7 linked regions of the Homo sapiens genome follow. The protein of the gene in region 1 purifies or fractionates together with the protein of each later gene. This does not show direct contact. Each region holds a gene or a part of one and is shown on either strand. Other genes may lie near its edges.

The links.
Region 2: the proteins of ZNF169 (region 1) and TRIM26 purify together in Homo sapiens (affinity purification with mass spectrometry; 2 studies listed by BioGRID and IntAct, with this or other methods). This does not show direct contact.
Region 3: the proteins of ZNF169 (region 1) and SORL1 purify together in Homo sapiens (affinity purification with mass spectrometry; 2 studies listed by BioGRID and IntAct, with this or other methods). This does not show direct contact.
Region 4: the proteins of ZNF169 (region 1) and LRP1B purify together in Homo sapiens (affinity purification with mass spectrometry; 2 studies listed by BioGRID and IntAct, with this or other methods). This does not show direct contact.
Region 5: the proteins of ZNF169 (region 1) and ZYG11A purify together in Homo sapiens (affinity purification with mass spectrometry; 2 studies listed by BioGRID and IntAct, with this or other methods). This does not show direct contact.
Region 6: the proteins of ZNF169 (region 1) and MRPS9 purify together in Homo sapiens (affinity purification with mass spectrometry; 2 studies listed by BioGRID and IntAct, with this or other methods). This does not show direct contact.
Region 7: the proteins of ZNF169 (region 1) and SART3 purify together in Homo sapiens (affinity purification with mass spectrometry; 2 studies listed by BioGRID and IntAct, with this or other methods). This does not show direct contact.

Annotation. Positions count from the first base shown.
Region 1 is NC_000009.12:94,299,796-94,302,331, reverse strand, and holds the end of ZNF169 (zinc finger protein 169), read right to left. Parts: exon of another isoform or gene 2,521-2,536; coding exon of another isoform or gene 2,518-2,520; coding exon 962-2,517; 3' UTR 503-961; downstream 1-502. UniProt on the Homo sapiens protein: May be involved in transcriptional regulation.
Region 2 is NC_000006.12:30,199,892-30,203,411, forward strand, and holds part of TRIM26 (tripartite motif-containing protein 26), read right to left. Parts: intron 1,248-3,520; 5' UTR 1,144-1,247; intron 1-1,143.
Region 3 is NC_000011.10:121,602,297-121,605,816, reverse strand, and holds part of SORL1 (sortilin-related receptor preproprotein), read right to left. Parts: intron 1,625-3,520; coding exon 1,493-1,624; intron 705-1,492; coding exon 578-704; intron 416-577; coding exon 246-415; intron 1-245. UniProt on the Homo sapiens protein: Sorting receptor that directs several proteins to their correct location within the cell. Along with AP-1 complex, involved Golgi apparatus - endosome sorting.
Region 4 is NC_000002.12:140,700,004-140,703,523, reverse strand, and holds part of LRP1B (low-density lipoprotein receptor-related protein 1B precursor), read left to right. Parts: intron 1-970; coding exon 971-1,097; intron 1,098-1,231; coding exon 1,232-1,383; intron 1,384-1,678; coding exon 1,679-1,803; intron 1,804-2,902; coding exon 2,903-3,274; intron 3,275-3,520. UniProt on the Homo sapiens protein: Potential cell surface proteins that bind and internalize ligands in the process of receptor-mediated endocytosis.
Region 5 is NC_000001.11:52,859,740-52,863,259, reverse strand, and holds part of ZYG11A (protein zyg-11 homolog A), read right to left. Parts: intron 2,530-3,520; coding exon 2,389-2,529; intron 1-2,388. UniProt on the Homo sapiens protein: Probably acts as a target recruitment subunit in an E3 ubiquitin ligase complex ZYGA-CUL2-elongin BC.
Region 6 is NC_000002.12:105,048,055-105,051,574, reverse strand, and holds part of MRPS9 (small ribosomal subunit protein uS9m), read right to left. Parts: intron 2,405-3,520; coding exon 2,225-2,404; intron 1-2,224.
Region 7 is NC_000012.12:108,551,171-108,554,690, forward strand, and holds part of SART3 (spliceosome associated factor 3, U4/U6 recycling protein), read right to left. Parts: intron 1-3,520. UniProt on the Homo sapiens protein: U6 snRNP-binding protein that functions as a recycling factor of the splicing machinery. Promotes the initial reassembly of U4 and U6 snRNPs following their ejection from the spliceosome during its maturation.

The sequences.
Region 1 (2,536 bases):
CCGTGAGCCTAAAAAGCAGGGCTGCCAATCCAGTTGGCCCAGAAGGCAGAGCACTGAGCCAAAGGGGATTATTCTCGAGACTTAAAATCTAATGGAAGTTGCCTTGCCAGGTTTGAGACTTGCTTGGGATCCATCATTCTTCATTTCTTTCTCATGTCTTTCCTTTGGAATGGGGAAGTCCAGCCTCTGCTTGTCCCACCATTGTAGAATATTGTGGAAGCAGATATCTGTCTGGTTTCACAGGATCACACCTGGAGAATTTTGCCTAAGGATGAATTGTACCTAAAGTCTCATTCACACTTGATTTAGATGATATTTAAATGAGATTTTGGATCTAGAGGTGAAGTTGAAATGGGTAAAGAATTTTGGGACTGTTGGGATCATGTGAATGTATTTTGAATGTCTGAGGGACCTGAACTTTGGTAGTGGAGTGTTATAGACTAAATTGGGTTTCCCAGAAATTCATATGTTGAAGTCCTAACTGTGTAGTGTGACTGTATCTAGAGATAAGGCCTTTAGGAAGGTTATTAAGGTTAAACGAGGCCATGTGGCTGTGGCTCTATCCAAAATGACTGGTGTCCCTAGAAGAGGAGGAAGCCACACCAGGAAAGCATACACACAGAAAAAAGCCCACGTGAGGACGTGGCCAGAAAGCAGCCATCCGCAAGCCAAACAGAGAGGCTTAAGCAGCAGCCAAACCTACCAATACGTTCATCTGGGACTTCCAGCCTCCATAAATATGAAAATATATTTCCGTTGTCAAAATCACCCAGCCTGGGGTACTTTGTTATGGAACCCCTAGCAAGCCAAGACAAATTGTGAATATAGAAAGTAAACCAAAAATCAACTATCTCATGATCGATGAAAGAAAGCAACATTTTTTTTTTTCCATTCCATTTCAGGAAACTGAAGCATTTACTAGTGATTTCTGCCAGCTTCACACTCACGGGGAAAGGAAAGGTCAGAAGACCTCTTGGGGTAGGAGCTGATGACCAGACTTGGTCCTCCTGTGTCTATGCAAGTGAGACTTCTGGCTAAAGCCACGCCCACACTCCCTGCAGACATACGGCTTCTCCCCAGAATGGGTCCGCTGATGTCGGATGAGGGCAGACTTAAAGCCAAAGCCGCGCCCACATTCATCGCAAATGCAGGGCTTCTCTCCTGAGTGTGTCCTTTGGTCAGAGATAAGGTGTGACTTCTGGCCAAGTCCTTGTCCACACACCCTGTCTACGTAAAGCTCCTCCTCTGAGTGTGTCCTCTGGTGTCGGGTGAGGAGCGACTTAAAGCCAAATGCACGCCCACACTTGGGGCACAGATAAGGCTTCTCCCCTGTGTGTGTCCTCTGGTGTCTGATGAGGGTGACCTTCTGACCAAAGCCACGCCCACAATCAGGGCACAGGTAGGGCTTCTCCCCTGTGTGTGTCCTCTGGTGTCCAATGAGGGTGACCTTCTGGCTAAAACCCCGCCCACACTGGGGGCACAGGTAAGGCTTCTCCCCTGTGTGTGTCCTCTGGTGCCTGATGAGAGTGACCTTTTGGCGAAAGCTGTGCCCACACTCAGCACAGACATAAGGCTTCTCTCCTGAGTGTGTGACCTGGTGACTAAGGAGGAGTGACTGCTGCCTGAAGCTACGCCCACACTCAAGGCACAGGAAGGGCCTCTCCCCTGTGTGTGAGCTCTGGTGCTGGAGGAGTGATGCCTTCTGGCAAAAGCCTCTCCCACACTCAGGACACACGAAGGGCTTCTCCTCCAAGTGCGTCCTCTGGTGTAGAAGGAGGGCTATCTTCTGGCGAAAGCCTCGCCCACACTCCTGACATACAAAGGGCCTCTCCCCGGAGTGAATCCTCTTGTGATTAGTGAGAGAGGATGTATACCTGAAGTGTCGCCCACATTCCCTGCACACATACGGCTTCTCCCCCGAGTGCTTCCTCTGGTGTATGGAGAGGGAGGCCTTCTGGCTAAACCGACGCCCACACTCAGGACACAGGTATGGCTTCTCCCCGGTGTGTGTCCTCTGGTGCTTGATAAGGTCTGATCTCTGGCAAAAGCCTCTCCCGCATTCAGGGCACACATGATGCTTCTGGTGGCTGAACAGGCTTGACTTTTTGCTAAGTCCCAGTCTATAGTTTCCACGTATGACTGCTCCAGATTCTGAAGTGTCTGCTCCCTTCAACATTGTGTCTGACCCCCCAAGACTCATCCTTTGGGCCAGGCGAAGGTCTGTTCCTCCTTCTCTGTTCCCTTCTACCCATTCTACTGGGTCACCTTGATGTGGGCTGAAGAATGTCCTAGAAATTCTGCTTGGCCTCTTTCTTAATGAGCTGTCGGGGCCTTCTGTCTCTCCACTTTCTCCTTTTTCACTAGAGCATCTTGGAGCTTCTAGTTGGAAGTCACCTCCTGCAGATGAGCTTGGGAAGATCTGTGTGGGATGGCCACTTAGCGCATATTGTCTGAGGAGCTGCGAGCTAGAAAAGGCCACCAGGTGGGGAAAACTTGGCTGGAATTCTGTTCTAGGCTCTGCTAGAGAGAAAGTCTT
Region 2 (3,520 bases), on another chromosome or scaffold:
TCCCAAAGTGCTGGGATTACAGGCGTGAGCCACTGCACCTGGCCAAGAGACCCCTTTTGTTTGCTCCTCAAGGTTTCAGGTTTCAAGAACTAAGAGAGGGCAATGTGACATGGCTCACCCTGTAAATCCAACACTTTGGGTGGCTGAGGCAGGAGGATCACTTGAACCGAGGAGTTTGAAACCAGCCTCAGCAACATAGTGAGACCCTGTCTCAACTAAAAAAATTTAAAAATTTTTTAAAATACCCCAGTGTAGTAGCATGCATCTGTAGTCTCAGCTACTGAGGAGGCTGTGGCAGAAGGATTACTTGAATCTGGGAGGTGGAGGCTACAGTGAGCCATGATTGTACTACTACACTCCAGACTGGGCAACAGAATAAGAGACTGTCTCAAAACAAACAAAAAACCAGAAAACATTAAAAAACAAACAAACAAACAGCACTGAGGTTCTTTACCAAAACTCGAGAAGCATCAGGAAGCTTCAGGAGTCTGACTGTCAGCATTTCCCTTTGTGAGTATTTCCCTGGGCTGTTCTATAGTTTGGGTTTAATTTGCTTCCCCTAGAAGGCTGGACTCTAAACACAGCCCTCCAGAGGAGCACAGCTTAGCCTCAGTGGACTTGTTCTTGGCTGTAACTGCCTCGTCTAGATGGCAGGAATCCTCAGGTGGCTGTGGCTGCTATGTGCTGTGAGGCCTTGGCTTGTACAGGGAGCGGGGACACACAGAAAGGACTCTGCTTCTGTTTACCTTTGTAGTCCTGACCCAGTTCCAGGCTGAGGTTATGAGCCTCAGCACATCTAACCCAAGAGCAGCCTCCTGCCCCTGACTCTGTGTGACAATACAGAAGTCACTTAAGTACTGAGCCTCAGTGTATCCATCTGTAAAATGGGAAGAGTGATACTTACCTTTAAGGGTTTCTAAGCAGGTCATGTGAAAGAATTATGGGAAAAGTGCTAAGCACAAGCCTGGTACACAGACGGAAATCTAGGAGAGAACCCACAACCCCTGGTTTCCAAATCCAGTGAGTGTCCAAACCACAAACAAAGAGTTAAATTCAAAAGTGGCAGCAAAAGAGGAAGTGAGCAGAACCAGCCACAGTGACACACGTGCTACAGAGTTCAACAACATCGTCACAGGGCAGTACCTGGAGGACTTGCTCTCCTATAGATCCATGGAAGGCAACTACAGCAGCGCTGGGAAGACAACCAGCAGGGCACAGAGGTGACTGCGAGGCTGGAATGAAGCAACCTGAATTACAGGCAAATCAATACTATTAATGATTATGTATGGTGAAAGTCCATCACAACAGAGTTCAGTGGCCTCTGTCAGTAGTGACATTAATGGGACAGAAATAAAACCCCCAGTCTATAAGACCCAAGAGTAAACAAAACAGGGATATAACGTCCACTCATTGAGGGTCTAGTACAATAATACATAAAAAGTGTTTTATAACGTAAAAGGACTACATAAATATAAGAGATTCTTATAGTGCTGATAATAAATTCCAACTGGAAGCACTAATGGATCTAGGTATGTGTGACTTTAAGAGACATAATGAGGGGAAAATCAAGCACCTTCAAAGCTCAAATGAAGGATTCAAGGAATTTAACTGTCAAGTGAAAGTAATATCAAGTTCCTACATGTTAGTAATGCTGGTAGAAATGCTAGGAATTGGCCGGGCACGGTGGCTCACACCTGTAATCCCAACACTTTGGGAGGCCGAGGCAGGTGAATCACAATGTCAGGAGATTGAGACCATCCTGGCTAACACGGTGAAACCCCATCTCTACTAAAAATACAAAAATTATCCAGGTGTGGTAGCATGCACCTGTAGTCCCAGCTACTCAGGAGGCTGAGGCAGGAGAATCAATCACCTCAACCCGGGAGGCAGAGGTTGCAGTGAGCCGAGATCGTGCCATTGCACTCCAGCCTGGGTGACAGAGTGAGACTCCATCTCAAAAAAAAAAAAAGAAAGAAATGCTAGGAATTGCCTGGTCCAACTCCTTGGCTTTACTGTTGAGGAAATAAGCCTGGCTCAGCAGTTTTTCAGTTGTAACATACTGCAAGTGTTTGGAAAGAGGAAAAAGGAGTGGTACTGGGCGTGTCTGTGGGCTTTCAAGCCCTTTATCATGCCTCTTTGCCAAATGGCCTAGAAGTTTAAAAGCTGAGGTTTTTCTTTGTTGAAGGATAGCCTGTGTTATCTTTGGGTTGGGAACTTATTTTGCAATTTACTTGCAAAATAAGAACAATAAAAGGACTATGAAGAGCTCAGCTACAGCTCTTCTTCCATGCAAAACAGGACACCTCATCACCCAGGCTCCATGCTGGGGTTTGATGGTCTCTAAACCTCCTGAAACTGTCTAAAAATTATTGCATATGTACTAGATACCTAAAATTGTCTGGGGATTACAGAAGAATAACCTTCTGTAAGATTAATCAGCAAATAAGTAGAAGAGGGATAACAGAATTAGAAAATCATTTTGCGACTGCCATTATAATAGCACAAGGATCATCAATAGATGCTAAAACTATTAGGTGAAAAGTTTTGGGGGATGAGATAGTACCCATGGTGCCAAAGCACCAATGAATGGATTACTTCCTGACATACCTTCATAAGGAAGAGATCCAGTGGTTATCTTAACTAAGTGACCAAATCCAGCGTCATCAGCAGACGGGGCAAAGTGGCATGTGCTTTCTGGCATGGCACTATATGAATCACACAACATTACCTATGAAGTGTTTGTGCCAAAAATGTTTGACTTGAATGAATCTAGTCAAGACTTTAGATCTAACTTCCAGTTTATAAAAAATATAAAGGAAAGGAATACTCTGAAGTATGTTATAACTGAAAAAGTACCGATGGAGGAATTAAACCACACCATAAGGAAAGAACCAGATAAATCCAGAATGCTGGACATTGCACATGGCAACTGGCCTAGTCTTTTAAAAAGTCAATGTCATAAAAAAAAACCTTCGAAAGAACTGCTTTTGATTTTTACAGACTAAAGAGAAATAATAACCAAATGCAATACGTGAACCTTGATTGGATCCTGTAAAAAGAAAAAAAAGGTTATAAAAATAGTCTTGGAACTATTGTGGGAAATTTGTAAGTAGGCTGGGTGTTAGATCATATTAAAAAATTATTTCCTCTCTTTCTTTTTTTTTTTTTTTTTTTTGAGACAGGGTCTTACTCTGTCCCCCAGAGTGCAGTGGAACTATCTGGGCTCACTGCAACCTCGGCCTCCCTGGCTCAAGCAATCTTCTCATCTCAGGCTCCCGAGTTGCTGCAACAACAGGTGCATACTACCACACTTGGCTAATTTTTAAAGGTTTTTGTAGAGAAGAGTTGCCACTATATTGCCCAGGCTGGTCTCAAACTCCTAGGCTCAAGCCATCCTCCCACCTCAGCCTCCCAAAGTGCTGGGATTATAGGCATGAGCAACTGCACCATGTCTAAAATTATTTTCTTAATGGTATTTACTGAGGTTATGTATGAGAATGCCTATACTTCTTATTTATTT
Region 3 (3,520 bases), on another chromosome or scaffold:
CAAAAAATGCAAGAGGGCAATGGTGGAGAGAATCTTAAATTAACTTAAGGTACAAGAACAGTCTCTGATGCAGTAAGAAGAACAGATGTTTGACAACTCTGGCAAGACTATAAAGCTTAGCCACCATACTTCTGTACATGTGAGGCACACATATGTTCCCACATTCCTGAGAATACTCAGAAAGACCCTCACAAACCCCGACCTGAGGTCTTACCCATGCCATAAAAATTAACTGAAACACTTACATCCCTCTGGGGTCCTCAGGGTCACAAAGTCATTGGTGTTGTGTGCCTTGCTGAGACACTGAACCTGTACTTTAACCTGATACGTGGTATCTGGTTTCAAGACTTTTAATACAGTGTTTGTCTTATTGCTGTGGGTCTCCAGAGTCTTCCATATGCTCTCTCCAACCACCCTGGCCCAAAAAAAAATAAAGATATTGTCACACTGGAGCAGCATGGGGGGCTGAGATGTCTGACTCCGTTAATAGCATGGTGCATGCCACTAGAGAGTTTACAGAACATCCTGGGGCAATGAAGACATCATTTTCATCTCCCATGACAAAGATGGGACCTACCTGTAGTAGACATTATATACACAAGAAGCAGAGGGCATTTTTTTGGGCCTCATCCAGGTCAAAGTCACATCCCCAGAGAAGTCAGCTGTCCACTGAAGATTCTGTACTTTGTACACAGTCAACTCATCTAGAGAGATAAAGGAGAAAAAGACAAACAAAGTTACATCTTGGCTGGGCGTGGTGGCTCACGCCTGTAATCCTAGCACTTTGGGAGGCCGAGGCGGGCAAATTGCCTGAGCTCAGGAGTTCGAGACTGGCCTGGGCAATGTGGCTAAACCCCGTCTCTACTAAAAATACAAAAAAAAAAAAGTTACATCTTACAAATCCTTAGATTTCAAAGGACTCCTGCTTTTAAACAGAACTACCATGATCTAGATTATCAGGAGGCCATAATCATTATCTGAAAAGAAATCTCAGAAAATGTAGTTGAAACCTCCCTATACAATCCCTCCTAGGGTCTCCTACTTTTCCGGTCGTGATATTTTCCCTCGAATTTCATCTTCCTCCTGCCTATGACAATTTAAGCCTATTTCTCCATAGAGAATGCTACAAGTCCAAGGACCATGTCATAGGGTCCATTACTAGACACTCCAGAGATAAGAACTGAGTTAATCCCACCAGCAGATTGAGACTGTGAGAGCCATGGTGTATGGGCATGAGGTGGGAAGTCCATAAAAAAAAAAAAATCCAAGACTAGCATTTCACTAACAGGGAGGAGACAGCTGCATGTTGTATCAGAGTCTGGCCAAGGCTCACCTCACTTGGGGCTCCAAAACTAGGCACAAATCTGTTTTATCCTTAGATTGAGCAACAGTTCAAAAGGGTCCTAGCTCAAGGTCTACACAGGAGGGGCCCTGGGGTAAGCGAGCCTCCCAGCCCAGCCCAGCCCAGCCCAGCCCGTGGACCGGCACTCACCACTGCAGGCCTTTTCATCGCTCTCGTCCGAGCAGTCCAGGAAGCCGTCGCAGCGCTCCGAGAGCACAATGCAGGCCTCCCCGTCCTCGCACTGGAACTCCCTGCTCATGCAAGTCAAGGTGCTGTGTGTGGCTGAAACACAGAGAGGCTTCTTAAGTCCACGGGGAGGGGCCGTATGGTACTAAAGGCTGGGCCCAAGTTTATTCCCATTTAGGCAAAGTACTAATTGGCTTCTGCTTCAAAACACACCTCTGGAATGACCAGTGGTGGAATCTATACCGGCACTAAGGTGCCATCTCATCTAACATTAACAACTGGAATCTGCATTCGGGAAGAGTGAGCACTTTGGAGTCAAACAAACTAGAGTTTAAATCCTAGATCTGCATGAGCTTGAGCAAACAGCTTAATATCACCTGAGTTCAGTTGCCCTATAAAAAATGGAAGTAACAATTCCATCACTATCATGTCTGCAAGGATCTAATGAGATCACACACCTGGAACACTGCCTGGCTCCTGGCCGGCATCAACAAACTGTAGCTATTACTCTATAGTACTATTAATTATTCTGCTACTATTATTAGTTTGCAATCTAGAAAGAGGAGCTGATTTCTGGTTTGAGTAACAGAAATAACAATGAGATGAATCCCAACAATATTAAGAGGCATGCATACTTTATGTAGTATTTAAAGTTGTTTGGCTTTTCAAAGTACTTGAACAGAAAATGAAATAATGCAAATAATGAGCACTGGTAAGTTAAGGGTTATGCAACTGTATGTCTAGGCTATTGACCAAAATGTGATGTGCTCTCCAGTTCTGAAAGTAGATTAAAACTGCACGGGAGGCTCCAAAAAGAAAGCAATGACCGTATAATTGCAAATGCTCCTGAAAAGAGAAAAGGTGAGAATGGCTGTAGACAGCAAATCTGCTATGCAGGCTGTGTACCTGGGTGGTACAAATCTGCTATGTAGCTGGTTGAGCCCAGGAACAGTAACTTGAGGCCTTCCTTATACAGATTCACACCTGCCTGCCCAGTCCTGGACAAGGAAGGGCTACATCAGAAATCCAATCCCACCAGTGATGAGGGTCTAAAATCAATCTTGCTCCTCCAAGTCAAAGACGTCCACATCCTAATCCCTGGAACCTGTAATATGTTACCTTATGTAACAAAGCAACTTTGCAGGTGTGATTAGATTAAGGACCCATAGGTAGGAGAGTTCAGCCTGGATTATCCAGGTGGGCTCTGTCTAATGACATGGGTCCTTAAAAGCAGAGACCCTTTTCTGGTTGTGGTGAGAGACAGAGAGAATACAGAAGACAGGTGAGAGACATGCAACATCACTGGCTTTGAAAATGGGGAAATTATAACAGACAAAAGGAGGCTGAACATGAGTGGCTCCATTCTGCTCCCCGCACCCTGCCCCCTGCCCATGGTGACATCTTGTAGGTTAACGGCCTCTGCCTATCTCTGCACGTAGGCCAAGCTAACTATGGAAGGAATTTTGTTTATAGTTTAATTTTAAAGCAAGGATGATAATAGTCCCTTCCTGAAACTAAGCCCTGAGGAAATAAAGAGAGTGTACACACAAGTAACAAAGTTATGTTAAAGGTGATATGAGCATTGTGACCTGAGCAAGGAAGCTTCATACGCCCCACTTCAGACCCAGGCATGTGGTCATGGGTCACCTCTTGACCTCGACCCCCTCCCTCTTCTCCTTCCTCCTAACATAAACAACCACACTTTGAGATATAGGTAGAGAAACTGGATAATGTTCCCATGAGAGCAACCAGGATGGTCAAGAGGAATGGATAAAGGATCCAGGGATATTTTCCTAGAGGTGAAAAGATACAAGGATGGGGGAGGTGGTGAGAAGACATGCAGACCACTCTGACAAGTGTTCTCCACTGATGAGTTTTCATGAGAAAGAAGAATTAAGACTTCTTTGCACGAGTCTCTAGGATGGAGGTACAGACTTCAGTTCACTACTTATTCAAAAACAATCCTGATAAAAAATTGTCAATAGAAGGGAA
Region 4 (3,520 bases), on another chromosome or scaffold:
GCTGATGTCTGATAGTTGGATAAAAACTTCAGTAGATGTAACTTCAAATTAAGAATTAAGAAGGAATTATATTTATCTAAAAGCATGGATTTCTGTATAGTCCTATGAATATCGAATTTTTTGAATGAATGAGTGAAATACATGGATTATGTACATTCTGTTTTTCTACATTTTATTTTATGACATGTTGTTTTATTTTGGCATACTATATGTGTTCTTTCTGCATGACATTTTCTTTCACATAGTCCCCCATTACATTTTGTTTTATAAGATTACTAAAATAAGAATTTCTGCTTTTGCATAAAACCGTATTTTAAGATGACTTCACAAGATAACATAAAATTCAAACTAGATTAGTTACATTTAGCAGTCTAAGTAGAAAAAATAGAAAGTTATGATGCATTCATGTCTATATTCATAAATTAAATATGTATTTACCACAAAATTTCTAATTACCTGGTGCTAAAGGAGTAATAGTGAATGAAAATAGAGGAGTGATCACTGTCCTTGTTGAGCTTACAGTCTAGTGGGGGCAAAAAATATTTATAATAAATGATAATGTAAGGAAATACAAGTGGAAATTTGCCATTCTAATCTGTGTTGTGAAGCAGAGCACATGGTACAGGGAAGACACAGAAGGCTTCTGGAAAGAAATAGTTGAGATATGAAAAGTAGGAAGTAATTAGGCAAACAGATTGGAGAAGAGCATTTGAGACAGGAAATAGCAGGCACAAAAGGTATTTTGGTAGGATGTTGAGTGCATCCTATGATTTGTATGACTGGTTAACTATTTTTTTACGATAAAAATTATTTTATCGGAACCATAAGCACACTGTATATTAACTTCCGAAATGTATTATTTTTATTCTAGTGTGAATGCTACTGCTGTTATTAGTAATGTCTTTTTGCATAGCTCTGCATACTACAAATAAATGTACATAAACACTACAAATTAACAATTTAATTTCAGCCTCTTGTTCTGGACTGAATGGGGACAAATGCCCTGTATTGGAAAGGCTCGCTTGGATGGCTCAGAGAAGGTTGTCCTTGTAAGCATGGGAATAGCATGGCCGAATGGCATCTCCATCGACTATGAGGTCTGTTGGATTTCTTTTCAGTATTTAAAGTGCCTTAACTGACAACTTTAATTTACCTACTTTTAGTGTTCCTTTATTTTCTTAATAAAACAATCAAATATAGTCTGTAACGTTACTTCTTAATCGATATTTAGGAAAATAAATTGTACTGGTGTGATGCTCGCACAGACAAGATAGAGAGAATCGACCTTGAGACTGGAGGGAATCGCGAGATGGTGCTGTCAGGAAGCAATGTGGATATGTTTTCAGTTGCAGTCTTTGGGGCTTACATCTACTGGTCTGACAGGTAATTTATTTTTTCATAAGTATTTGAGTCTCAAAATGTTATTTCAGTGCCAGTTGCTTTACCCTTGTAGGATTTACCATTTCTTAGCAAGGTCACAAAAAGGAACTCACAAAGCCAGTAATTTCCACAGAAAAGGCAGGTACTCTTGCTATTCCAAGCTGAAGCATTTCAATGTCACAGACTAAAGTTGGTTTCTTTCCCTTCTGTTGGTCCATCTGTTATCTTCAGCTTAAGTAACTGGCTTGACTTTAATTAGTCGAAGATTGTTGATCATGTATGTTCAACTTTTTGGCAGAGCACATGCAAACGGGTCTGTCAGAAGGGGCCACAAGAATGATGCCACAGAAACGATAACCATGAGAACCGGCCTTGGAGTCAACCTGAAGGAGGTTAAAATATTTAACCGAGTAAGAGAGAAAGGTCAGCACTCTTGAAAGAATACATAATATGTATATTTTATGTGATTTCTCTCCAATTTTTAAAAACATTGTCAAACTTAGAAATTCTTCTATAAGTCTAAAACCTCAAAACATTATCTTTACATCTAATTTCCTGCAAGTATCATATAGTAGCCTAATACAATAAATATGTCATATTTCATACAAAAGCGTATTTGCCCAGGACAGCACAGGTACATGGACATGTTACATACCTGGCATGTCTTGATTATAGGTTTTGGCTAAGGAATATAGAAAAACTTGAAACATGTATTGATTGGATAAAAAATTAAAAGCATAAGTAGGATATTAATAAAAGGCAGTTGAAATTTTTATACATAATATGAATCATATTATATAATAAGTGGTTATGATCCCAAAGGTGATGCTGTTAATGTAAAATATTTCCAAAGTCATTACTTCCTTAAAATATTTATTCTAAACTTACAGGACAATGATTTGGGTATTTAAAATTTGTTTACCTCCATTAAAATAAATTGTAACTAACTTTTTTGTATCAAAGGAAGTTATAATAATGTTGGAGATAATAATAATGAATTCACAAAGGAGAATTAGACTGGTGAAGAAATTTTAAGTGCATTTTTTATCTTCACTTAAAATTGGAGTAAGAACTTATGCTCAGCATATTTAGGAGGTTAGGCACATTGTAGCTATAGATTTCTTTGATGCTTTCCATATCTCAAAGATAGAGTTTAAAGCAGTGCATTATTTCTGGTGAGATCAATTCATGTTTTAAATGAACAATATATGAAACACTATAAGTATCAAGTTTCAAAAAAGATTTATATACTTAACTGGTTCATTAAGGGAAAAATTTAATGCTTAACTTGGATGGTGAATGAAACAGACTATGATTTTCCAAATAAAGAAACCCAAGATTTAAACTGCTGTGATTTTTTAAAAAACAATACTTTTTTAATTTTTTATTGACCAGCTTAAAATTAAGAGCAAAAAGAGAATATTCAACATCAAAGTTTTAATATTTCTTTATGGAGAATTTTGTTTCAAAAACAAAAGAAAAACATAAACATGTGCATGTGTGTATCATTTTTCTTCATTAGGGACCAATGTTTGTGCCAGGGACAATGGTGGCTGTAAGCAACTCTGTCTTTATCGAGGAAATTCCCGGAGAACTTGTGCTTGTGCCCATGGATATTTGGCAGAAGATGGAGTTACTTGCCTGAGGCATGAAGGCTATTTACTGTATTCAGGAAGAACAATATTAAAAAGTATACATCTTTCTGATGAAACCAATTTAAATTCCCCAATAAGGCCATATGAGAATCCACGTTATTTCAAGAATGTCATAGCCTTGGCTTTTGACTATAATCAAAGAAGAAAAGGTACCAACCGAATCTTTTACAGTGATGCACACTTTGGAAATATACAGCTTATTAAAGACAACTGGGAAGACAGACAAGTAATTGTTGAAAGTAAGTACAGTAATTCAATTTTAAATAGGTGGAAATGAGTATCATTTAGATTACTAGAGAAATAATAGTGGTAATTGCATGTAGCAATTACATTTTCCTAGATTTTATATTCAGGAATGAATGTGACTATATCATCTAACCCTCACCCCCCACCCCCCCGCCAAATGTCAAAGAAGCAATTAATTGCTAGCATGTACAGCAAATTATGATTATTACCTTCTAATCATGGAAGGTTTAATATGTTTT
Region 5 (3,520 bases), on another chromosome or scaffold:
ATGAGGGCATTGTTCCAAGCTTAGACCCCACCTGCTCTGTCATTCAAGGACACTGTGATCTGTTTCCTCTACTAGAGACAGACCTGGGATATACTTCTGCTATGGAAAATGACTTTTTTTTTGTATATTGCTAAATTGATTTTTCAGTTTCATTAGATTGCCATCATCTGCAATTTAGAAATCCAGAAACCAAAAGAAATGTGATTTTCACAAAAACTACACAATCCTGGTATGAAAAGAAATTTAGAACATCTAAATTCAGCCTAGGCAACACAGTAAGACCTCATCTTTACAGAAAAAACAAAAAAAACAGCCAGGCATGGTGGGGCATGCCTATAGTTCCAGCTACTCAGGAGGCTGAGGCAGGAGGATCACTTGAGCCCAGGAGGTCAAGGCTGCAGTTGGCTGAGATCATATCATGCCACTGCACTCCAGCCTGGGCAACAGAGTGAGACCCTGTCTCAAAGAACAACAAAAACAAACAAAAACAGAAGAACATCTAATTCAATCTCTTCCTTACAGATGGAAAAAAAGGTCGAGAATTTTTAATTTATTTTATTTTTTTGAGTTGGGATCTCGCTCTGTTACCCAGGCTGGAGTATAGTGGCACCATCATAGCTTACTGTAGCAGCCTCAAACTCCTGGGCTTGCCGGGCGCAGTGGCTCACGCCTGTAATCCCAGCACTTTGGGAGGCCAATGCGGGCGGATCACGAGGTCAGGAAATCGAGACCATCCTGGCTAACACGGTGAAACCCCATCTCTACTAAAAAATACAAAAAAGTAGCTGGGCGTGGTGACGGGCGCCTGTAGTCCCAGCTACTTGGGAGGCTGAGGCAGGAGAATGGTGTGAACCCGGGAGGTGGAGCCTGCAGTGAGCGGAGATCAAGCCACCGCACTCCAGCCTAGGCGACAGAGCGAGACGCCGTCTCAAAAAAAAAAAAAAACCAAAAAAAAATCCTGGGCTCACGTAGTCCTCCAATCTCAGTCACCCAAGTAGCTGGGACTATAGGCATGTACAACCATGCCCACCTAACTTTTTTTTTGTTTTTTGAGACAGAGTCTTGCTCTGTCGCCCAGGCTGGAGTGCAGTGGTATCATCTCGGCTCACTGCAACCTCCACCTCCCAGGTTCAAGTGATTCTCCTGCCTCAGCCTCCTGAGTAGCTGGGATTACAGGCACCTGCCACCACGCCTGGCTAATTTTTGTATTTTTAGTAGAGACGGGGTTCTACCATGTTGGCCAGGCTGTTCAAATTCCTGACCTCAGGTGATCTGTCCACCTCAGCCTCCCAAAAAGTGCTGGGATTACAGGCGTGAGCCATGGTGCCCAGCCAGAAGCTAATTTTTTTTCTTTTTCTAAATTTTTGTAGAGACAGGGTCTTACTAATGTTGATCAGGCTAGTCTTGAACTCCTGGCCCCAGGAAATCCTCCCATCTCGGCCTCCCAACCAAAGTGGTGGGATTACAGGCATGAGCCACCACAGCTGACCCAGAGTTTTTCTTTATACAGCTTTTGAGCTGTAAATAAAGTTAATCTCCCATGCTGTAAAAATATTTTTTTTTGAGTCTCGCTCTGTCACCAGGAGGGAGTGCAATGGCACAATCTCGGCTCACTGCAACCTCCACCTCCCGAGTTCCAGCGATTCTCCTGCCTCAGTCTCCCAAGTAGCTGGGACTATAGGAGTGCGCCACCACGCCCACCAAATTTTTGTATTGTTTTTAGTGGAGACGGGGTTTCACCATGTTGGCCAGGATGGTCTCAATCTCTTGACCTCGTGATCCACCCGCTTCGGCCTCCCAAAGTGCTGGGAAAATATCCACATTTTTAAGGAATTGCAAAAAATTACAAATAAAGACAAGGTTTTTCTTAAGACCTTTCATTGTTATGTTTCACTAAAAACAACAATTTTCAAATAAACACATGTATAAAAGAAAAATAAATAACTGAAGTTTTCTTTCCCAAGCCTCTTAATACTTGTAATTACATTTACAATAAAACGCATCCTTCCCTAAACCAAAGCTAAGTTTGGCTATATCGATAAAAGCAACTTTATGTCATTCACAAAATACTTCAAGTGGTAGATTTGGCCACCCTTAATTATTTTTATTTTGTTCTGCACTTGTTTTCTTTCAGAAAGCCACATGATCCTATTATTCCCTTACTTAGACCAAATTTTAACTGTTTTGATTCTAATTTATTCCACATAAATCCAGATGCTCAAAGCAAAAGACACTTTGGCAGCTAAGCTTAACATTCTTTGCTCTATGAGAGCACTTGACTCACTATAGAATAAAGCATATAATTTATTATATTCAGTGTGGTTCGTGAACAATTATTAATTGAACCAAGTTAAGAAGTAATAGTAAAAATTGTCTTCCTTCAATTACCTTTAAAATAGCAGGCATGGTTACCTCCATTGAAAATGTCTCTGTGAACAGCCTGTGGAGGGCTTCCTTCACAAAACATGATCTGTTCCTGTATCGGCTCAGTGCTTCTGAAATCTGACTCATACTGGCTCCTCCAGCAACCTGAAAATAAAGATGTTACCAAACAGGTTTCACCATTCATATTTTTTCACCATTCATTTTTAACCACAGGGTTTTTGGGGCATCCAGTGTTTAAGACAATAACAACAAATGTTCAATTAAATGTTCCAGGTGTTGGCCAGGCGCAGTGGCTCACGCCTGTAATCCCAGCACTTTGTGAGGCTGAGGCAGGTGAATCACCCGAGGTCAGGAGTAGAGACCAGCCTGAACAATATGGTGAAACCCCATCTCTACTAAAATTACAAAAATTAGCCAGGCGTGGTGGCAGGCGCCTGTAGTCCCAGCTACATGACAAAATATGCTGAGAGAAAGTAAAGATCTAAATAAATGCAGAGATATACAGGATTCAAGAATCAGGAGACTAGCGCCAGGCGTGGTGGCTAATGCCTGTAATCCCAACACTTTGGGAGTCTGAGGCTCAAGGGTTGCTTGAGCCCAGGACTACGAGACCAGCCTGGACAACATAGTGAGACCTCGCCTCTATTTTTTAAAACAACATGAGACTCAACGTTATTAAACGGCAATTTTCCTCAAACTGACCTACAGATTTAATGCAATCCCAACTAAAATACCAGTAGTCCTTTTTGTAGATATTGACAAGTTGCTTTTATGATTTATATGGAAATACAAAGAACCTAGAATAACCAAAACAATTATGAAACAGAATAACAGTTGAAGAAGTCACATTACCCAATTTCAAGACTTCATATAAAGTTATAGTAATCAAGACAGTAGGCCGGGGCACAATGGCTCAGGCCTGTAATCCCAATACTTTGGGAGGCCAAAGTGGGCAGATCACCTGAGGTCAGGAGTTCAAGACCAGCCTGGCCAACATGGTAAATCCTCATCTCTACTAAAAGTACAAAAATTAGATGGGCGTGGTGGTGCACGCCTATAGTCCCAGCTACTAGGGAGGCTGAGCCAGGAGAATCACTTGAACCCGGGAGGCAGAGGTTGCAGTGAGCCGAGATCA
Region 6 (3,520 bases), on another chromosome or scaffold:
CCTTGCAGGAACTGACAAGCTGATCCTAAAATTTCATATGAAAATTCGAGGAGCAAAGAACAACCAAAATAGTCTTTAAAAGCAAGAAGGAAAGAAGACTACTTACACTTCCCAATTTCAAAACTTACTATAAAGCTACAGTAATCAAGACAAAGTGGTACTGGCATAAGGATAAATGTATAGATCAATGGAATAAAATAAGGTCCAGAAATAAGCCCTCATAGTTACACTGATATTCAATATAAGTGATAAAATAATTCAATGGGAAAAAATAGTCTTTCCAACAAATGATGCCGGAACAACTGAATGTCCATATGTAAAAGAACAAAGCTACATCCCTGCCTCACATCACACACAAAAATTACGTTAAAATGGATCAAAGACCTAAATGTAAGAGCTAAAACTACAAAACTAGAAGAAGAAAATATAAGGGTGAATTTTCATGACCTTGGATTAGCAATGGTTTCTAAGGTATACACATAAGAGAAATAAAAACATATGTCTACACAAGAACTTTATAGCATGCACATTCTTAGCAGTATTATTCATCAGAACTAAAAATGGAAATCCAAATGCCCATCAACTGATGACTGAATTCTTAAAATGTGGTATATCCATACAATCGAAAACTATTCAGTAATAAAAAGGAAGTACTGACACATGCCACAATGTAGATAAACATGAAAACATTGTGCTAAGTGAAACAAGTCAGTCACTAAAGACCAAATACTGTATGACTCTACTTATATGAAAGTCCGGGGTAGGCAAACTTAGAGTCTAGAGAGTCTATGTTCTAGGTGATTTGAAAATTAGGACCTGAATTCTATTCCTGTTGCACTCTTCAATTATTACATTCCTGACAAAAGCAATAATGGTCAATAATTTTTTTTGCTAAATGCCCCAGGATAGCTAGCAAAGGAGCTTAAATTTAACAACTTTGAATCTTGTTCTAATTTTTAAAATGTAATATCTAACATCTCATGGTATTTTATACTTAACTGAAGAATAGCATCTCTTTATGGAAAATATCCCCCAATACTGTCCAGATTACCATAAAACTCAAAAAGAGGACAGCAGCTACAAAGTCCCTAATTACAAATCACCTAACATAGAAGAGCAATAAGAAATCCTTCTGGACCGGGCCGGGTGGCTAACGCCTGTAATCCCAGCAATTTGGGAGGCTGAGATGGGTGGATCGCCAGAGGTCAGGAGTTCAAGACCAGCCTGACCAACATGGTAAAACCCCATCTGTACTAAAAATACAAAAATTATCTGGGTATGGTGGTGCGTGCCTGTAAGCCCAGCTACTCAGGAGGCTGAGGCAGGAGAACTGCTTGAAGCCAGTAGGCAGAGGTTGCTGTGAGCCAAGATCGTGCCACTGCACTCTAGCCTGGGCAACAGAGCAAGACTCTGTCTCAAAAAAAAGAAAAGAAAAGAAAAGAAAAAAATCCTTCTGGTTGAATAAAAAATGTTGGTCTGAAAGTGATACTACAGTACCATTTATAAATAGGAAAAGTATACAGAAAGATTGAAATTAAACTAAAGTGCATAAAATGACTAAAAATAATATTAAAATCGTATAAGAATGTTATTATCTATACAAAGATGTTGTTCTTCGATTAAATATAAAACATCATGGGATATTAGATGTTACTTTTTAAAAATAAGGACAAGATTCAAAGTTGTTAAATTCAACTTCCTTTGCTAGCTACTCTAGGATGTCTAGCAAAAATATTATCGACAATTACTGCTTTTATCAGGAATATAATAATTCAAGAGTGAATAGAATTCTGATCCTAATTTTCAAATCACTTAGACTACGCCCCCATTTTGAAACCTCAGATATATATTTAAGTTGACAAAAACACTGGGCCAAGGTTTACTTATGGGACTTGATATAAATTTGACTCTATTTTCATTACCATCTGTTATATCATTTTGTAAGAAAGCTGAGTCTAAGACTACACAACAGGTTAAACATTTCCCAATAGTGTATGAGCATTTATAGACTCATTTCTAGGTAACACCTAAAACTCACCATACTAAGTAAATCCTGCACATTTGTCTTTGAAACCATGGCTCCAACTTAAACAATGTATAGCAGCATTTTTCCTTATTCTGACAGCTTGATTAAAACACAGAGCTAAGGGGCTCATGAAGAAAAGTGCTTTTAATATCTAAAACTCTACAGCAATTACTTTTTCAACAGAGTAACTGTACTTACGTCAATATCTTCTTGAGTGAAAGTTTCTGGATCTTCTCCCATCATGTTGGCTAAATGTCTCTTTCCTATGTTGAACTCTTCAATCTGCTTTTTAATAAAATCCTCTGTGTAAGTTTCACGTTTTGAGGTAGGAACGTTTTTCTTTGGTATTACAAATGCAGTATGTCTTAGCCTTAATATCTAACAGAAAATATAGATGGAAAGAAAAGAAAATAAATTAAACTGTGATCTTCTAGGCCATTGTCCTTAAATAAAATAGTATATGCAAGTAGTTATCTTTTTTTATTACGGTATTCAAGTGACAGGAGTCCAAAAAGCAAGTTTAAAGGACCTGCTAAGAAAGTTGTTAGAATGTGTCCCCTACTCAAAGCCTTGCTTACAATGCAGTTTAAGCTACTAGCATTTCAATACATTAAAACCAAAAATACCTGTAAGTGGTATGCTACCTCCTGATCTATTTTAAACATCCACTTTTGATAATGATTGGTCAATGTCAGTGAGTTTTGATATTTGACACATGGGATAAAGAGCAAAAGGCTACTCCCTTAAGGAGGCAAATACACACGCACCAGAAACCAGCAAGCAGAAAACACGACAGCAAACGGCATGGCCTGAGGAAGAGCACCTTACACTGTCGGTATTCACCTTATTTGTGGGTAAAAATACGTCCTATCTTTAACCATCTTTTGGCTTAGCTTAAGACTTTATTCCATGGTCCTTATATTAAAGTGATAAAAAGAAAAAATTGCTTGACTGAACATTGAGAAGATTTATTAATTTGGCTCAACATGCTAACTGCAGAAATAAGGGCTCGCATATCTTTTATTTTTCTTTTTTTTAAAATTATTATTATACTTTAAGTTTTAGGGTACATGTGCACAATGTGCAGGTTAGTTACATATGTATACATGTGCCATGCTGGTGTGCTGCACCCATTAACTCGTCATTTAGCATTAGGTATATCTCCTAACGCTATCCCTCTCCCCTCCCCCCATCCCACAACAGTCCCCAGAGTGTGATGTTCCCCTTCCTGTGTCCATGTGTTCTCATTGTTCAATTCCTACCTATGAGTGAGAACATGTGGTGTTTGGTTTTTTGTCCTTGCAATAGTTTACTGAGAATGATGATTTCCAATTTCATCCATGTCCCTGCAAAGGACATGAACTCATCATTTTTTTATGGCTGCATAGTATTCCATGGTGTATATGTGCCACATTTTCTTAATCCAGTCTATCATTGTTGGACATTTGGGTTGGTTCCAAGTCTTTGCTATTGTGAATAGTGCCGCAATAAACA
Region 7 (3,520 bases), on another chromosome or scaffold:
AAAAGTTGAAGCGGACATATTAATATCACATAACGTACACTTCAGAGCAAAGAAAATTACTAGAGATAAAAAGGATTATATAATGACACATAATAATAAATAGATCAATCTACCAGGAAGACATAACAATCCTAAATGTGTAGGAACCAAAGAGCGCTTGAAAATTCATGAAGCAAAAACTATTACAGAGCTCAAAGAGACACAGCAGCAATTACATTTGGCAACTTCAACATCTCCCTTTTCAGCAACTGATAAAACTACTAGACACTTGAATATGTTGAACCTGGTCAAAAAGAAGATGAATAAAAGAAAAAGAAAATTAGACAAAAGCAAATTAAAAAATTTTTAAGTTTTTAAAAAGAAAGGAAATTGTTTAATTTTTTTTTAAACTAGGCAGAACAGGGTTATAGAAGAACTCAATAACGCCGTCAACGAACATGACCTAATTTATATAGAGAACAGCCCACCCAACAATACAGAATATGTATTTTTCTCAAGTACTTACGGAACATTCACTGAAGCCATATCCTTGGCCATAAAACAAACCTCAACAATTTAAGAGAAATGAAAACCATGCAGAGTATGTTTTGTGACCACAATGGAATCAAATTAGAAACCACTAACAGTAAGAAAATCTCTGAACACGTGAAAATTAAGTAATACACTTCTAAATAATCTGCAGGTCAAAGAGGAAGTCTCCAAGAAAATTTACAAATTAAAAAAAGTGAATGAAAATGAAATTGCAACAAATCAAAATAAGTAGGATGCTACTAAAACAGTACGGAGGAAAATTTAAAGAACTAAATTCAGTGTATAAGAAGAATTATACACCATGACCAAGTGGTATTTATTCCAGGTTTGCAAGGCTAATTCAACATTTAAAAATCAATTACTGTAATCCAGTGTATCAAAAGGCTAAAGAAAACTCATGGTATCAATAGATGCAGAAAATGCATGTGACAAAATCCAACAACGATTCATGGTTAAAACACTCAGCATGTTAGGAATAGAGGGAAACAACCTCAACCTGATAAAGAGCATCTATAAAAAATCTATCCCATAAGTTGGGATATAGGGTTACCTTAACATCATTCCTAATGGTAAAAGATTGAACACTTTCCTCCTAAAATCAAGAACAAGGCAAGGATGTCTGCTCTCACCACTCTTTTCCAACAAAGTCCTATAAGTTCTAGCCTGTTCAATAAGACAAGGAAAAGAAATAAAAGCTATACAGCTCGGAAAAATAAAACTGTCCTGATTTGTAGATGATATGGCTAAGTAGACAATCTTAAGGAACCAATTAAAAAAAAAAAAAACTCCAAAAATAGTGAACTGAGCAAGGTCACAGAATATAAGATAAACATACAAAAACAAAAAAAAAAACAAAAGAACATGTGGAAACCAAATTTAAAGACATAGCACCATTTACAATCACTCCAAAAAACCTAAATAATTAGGTGTATATTTAAAAAGTTTACAAAATCTGTATGCTGAAAATTACAAAATGCTGAGGAAAGAAATCAAAGACCTAAAAAAAGAGACACTTCATGTTCATGGATTGAAAAACTCAACATAGTCAAGAAGTAAATTCTCCCTAAACTGACTTACAGGCTTACTGAAACTCCAATTAAAATCCCAACAAGGTTTTTTGTAGACCTAGACAAGCTTATTCTAAAATGTATATGGGATGGCAGAGGCCCTAGAATAGCTAAAAATGATCTTGAAAAAGAATAAAGTGGGAGTAATCACTCTACCTGATTGATACTAAAACCTACAATACAGCTACAATCATCAAGGCAGTGTGAGAATGGCAGAAAGATACATAGATGAAGAGAATAGAACCCAGTAACAGACCCACACAAATATGCCCAAATAATTTTTGACAAACGCAATGCAACAGAGGAAAAAAAAAGGCATTTTCAAAAAATGATGCTGGAGCAAATGGATATCCACAGGCAAAACAAATAAATACACCTTGACCTAAACTTCACGCCTTACAGAAATAACTCAAAATGGATCACACTTAAATGTGAAATGTAAATATAACATCACAAAATGTTAGGACAAGAGAAAAATTTCAAGGCAACATCAAGGATCCTTAAGGTGACAGAACTGATCTGTATCTTGACTATATCAATGTCAATACCCAGGTTATTACATATTATAGTTCCTCAAAGTGTTATCATTGAGGGAAACTGGGTAAAAAGTACACGAAAAATCTCTATTATTTCTTACAAGTGCATGGAAATCTACAATTATCTCAAAATAAAAAGGCGAATTGTTTAAAAAGCTTTTGTTGGGATATAGGGATAATTTAAGTCTGTACACCAAGACTTCATTAGTATCTACTCTTCCAACATCTGCCACATTTTAGGAATATTTCCCTCTCCAGAGATAAAAGATTACCTACACTTCATTCAAATTACACTCTACCATCTGACAACATACCCTAATAATCCAGGTACTAGATATTTAATTAAAATACAGAAAGACAGCCAATGAATATGATTACTTGAACTTTAGGATAAAAATCTTAACAATGAAGTAGCCAGTGAACCTTTAAATGGAGTGGGGACAAGGACCAACCATTCAGAGAATACAAATATGAAGGATTACGGGGTTTTGTTCAAGTGTTTAGATTTTAAACAAGAACTCATTATCTTTCTCTACTAATTATAATAGTAAAACCCTTCCATGGCTTCCCAGTATCCTAGGAACAATTTGCAAATCCCTGCCTCATGTGCAATCCCAGCATGCTGGGCTCATCTCTCCAGCTACATCTCAAACCACCGGCCTCTCAACATGGCAGCCAGCTTCGTGTAACTCAAACATTCCAACGTCTCTCCAACCTCAGGGCTAGGCACCTGCTGCTCCTTCAGCCCAGAAGGATCTCTCACCTTCTCTCTGCCTAGCCACCCCTTTTCATACTTCAGGTATAAACTTCACTTCCTCAGAGGGCGCCCCCGGCCCCCCTCCTATGCCACTCTTTCTTAAGTAGCCCCCTATATGCTGCAAGCTGTTTTCCATCTCATCATCGTGTTTATTTCCATCATGACCTAAAGGCTTCATGGGATAAGTACCTTGTATGTCTTATCCTTGACTTGGTTAGATTCTTTACCTACCTGGCACACAGAATTCAATAAATTACATGTCAATCTCACTCAAGAGCATTAATACAAAAATCCTAAATAAAATATTAAAAAATCAGAAATGTATAAAGAGAACAATACATAATGATCAATTTGGGTCTATCCCAGGAATGCAAGGGTGTTTTTACACTACAAAATCATCCAGTATAATTTTTCCACCATCAGATTTGAGGGAAAAAAACATGATTACCTCAATGAAGAAATAGCATTTGATTAAAACATCCATTCATGAGTCAAAATTAAGAATTAGCAAACTAGGAATAGAAAGGCACTTCCTTAACCTGATTTTTAAAATCTGCAATAAATATATTTTAATAACATATTTATATATTTATTATATTGTTTATTATATATTTATATATTTATATTTA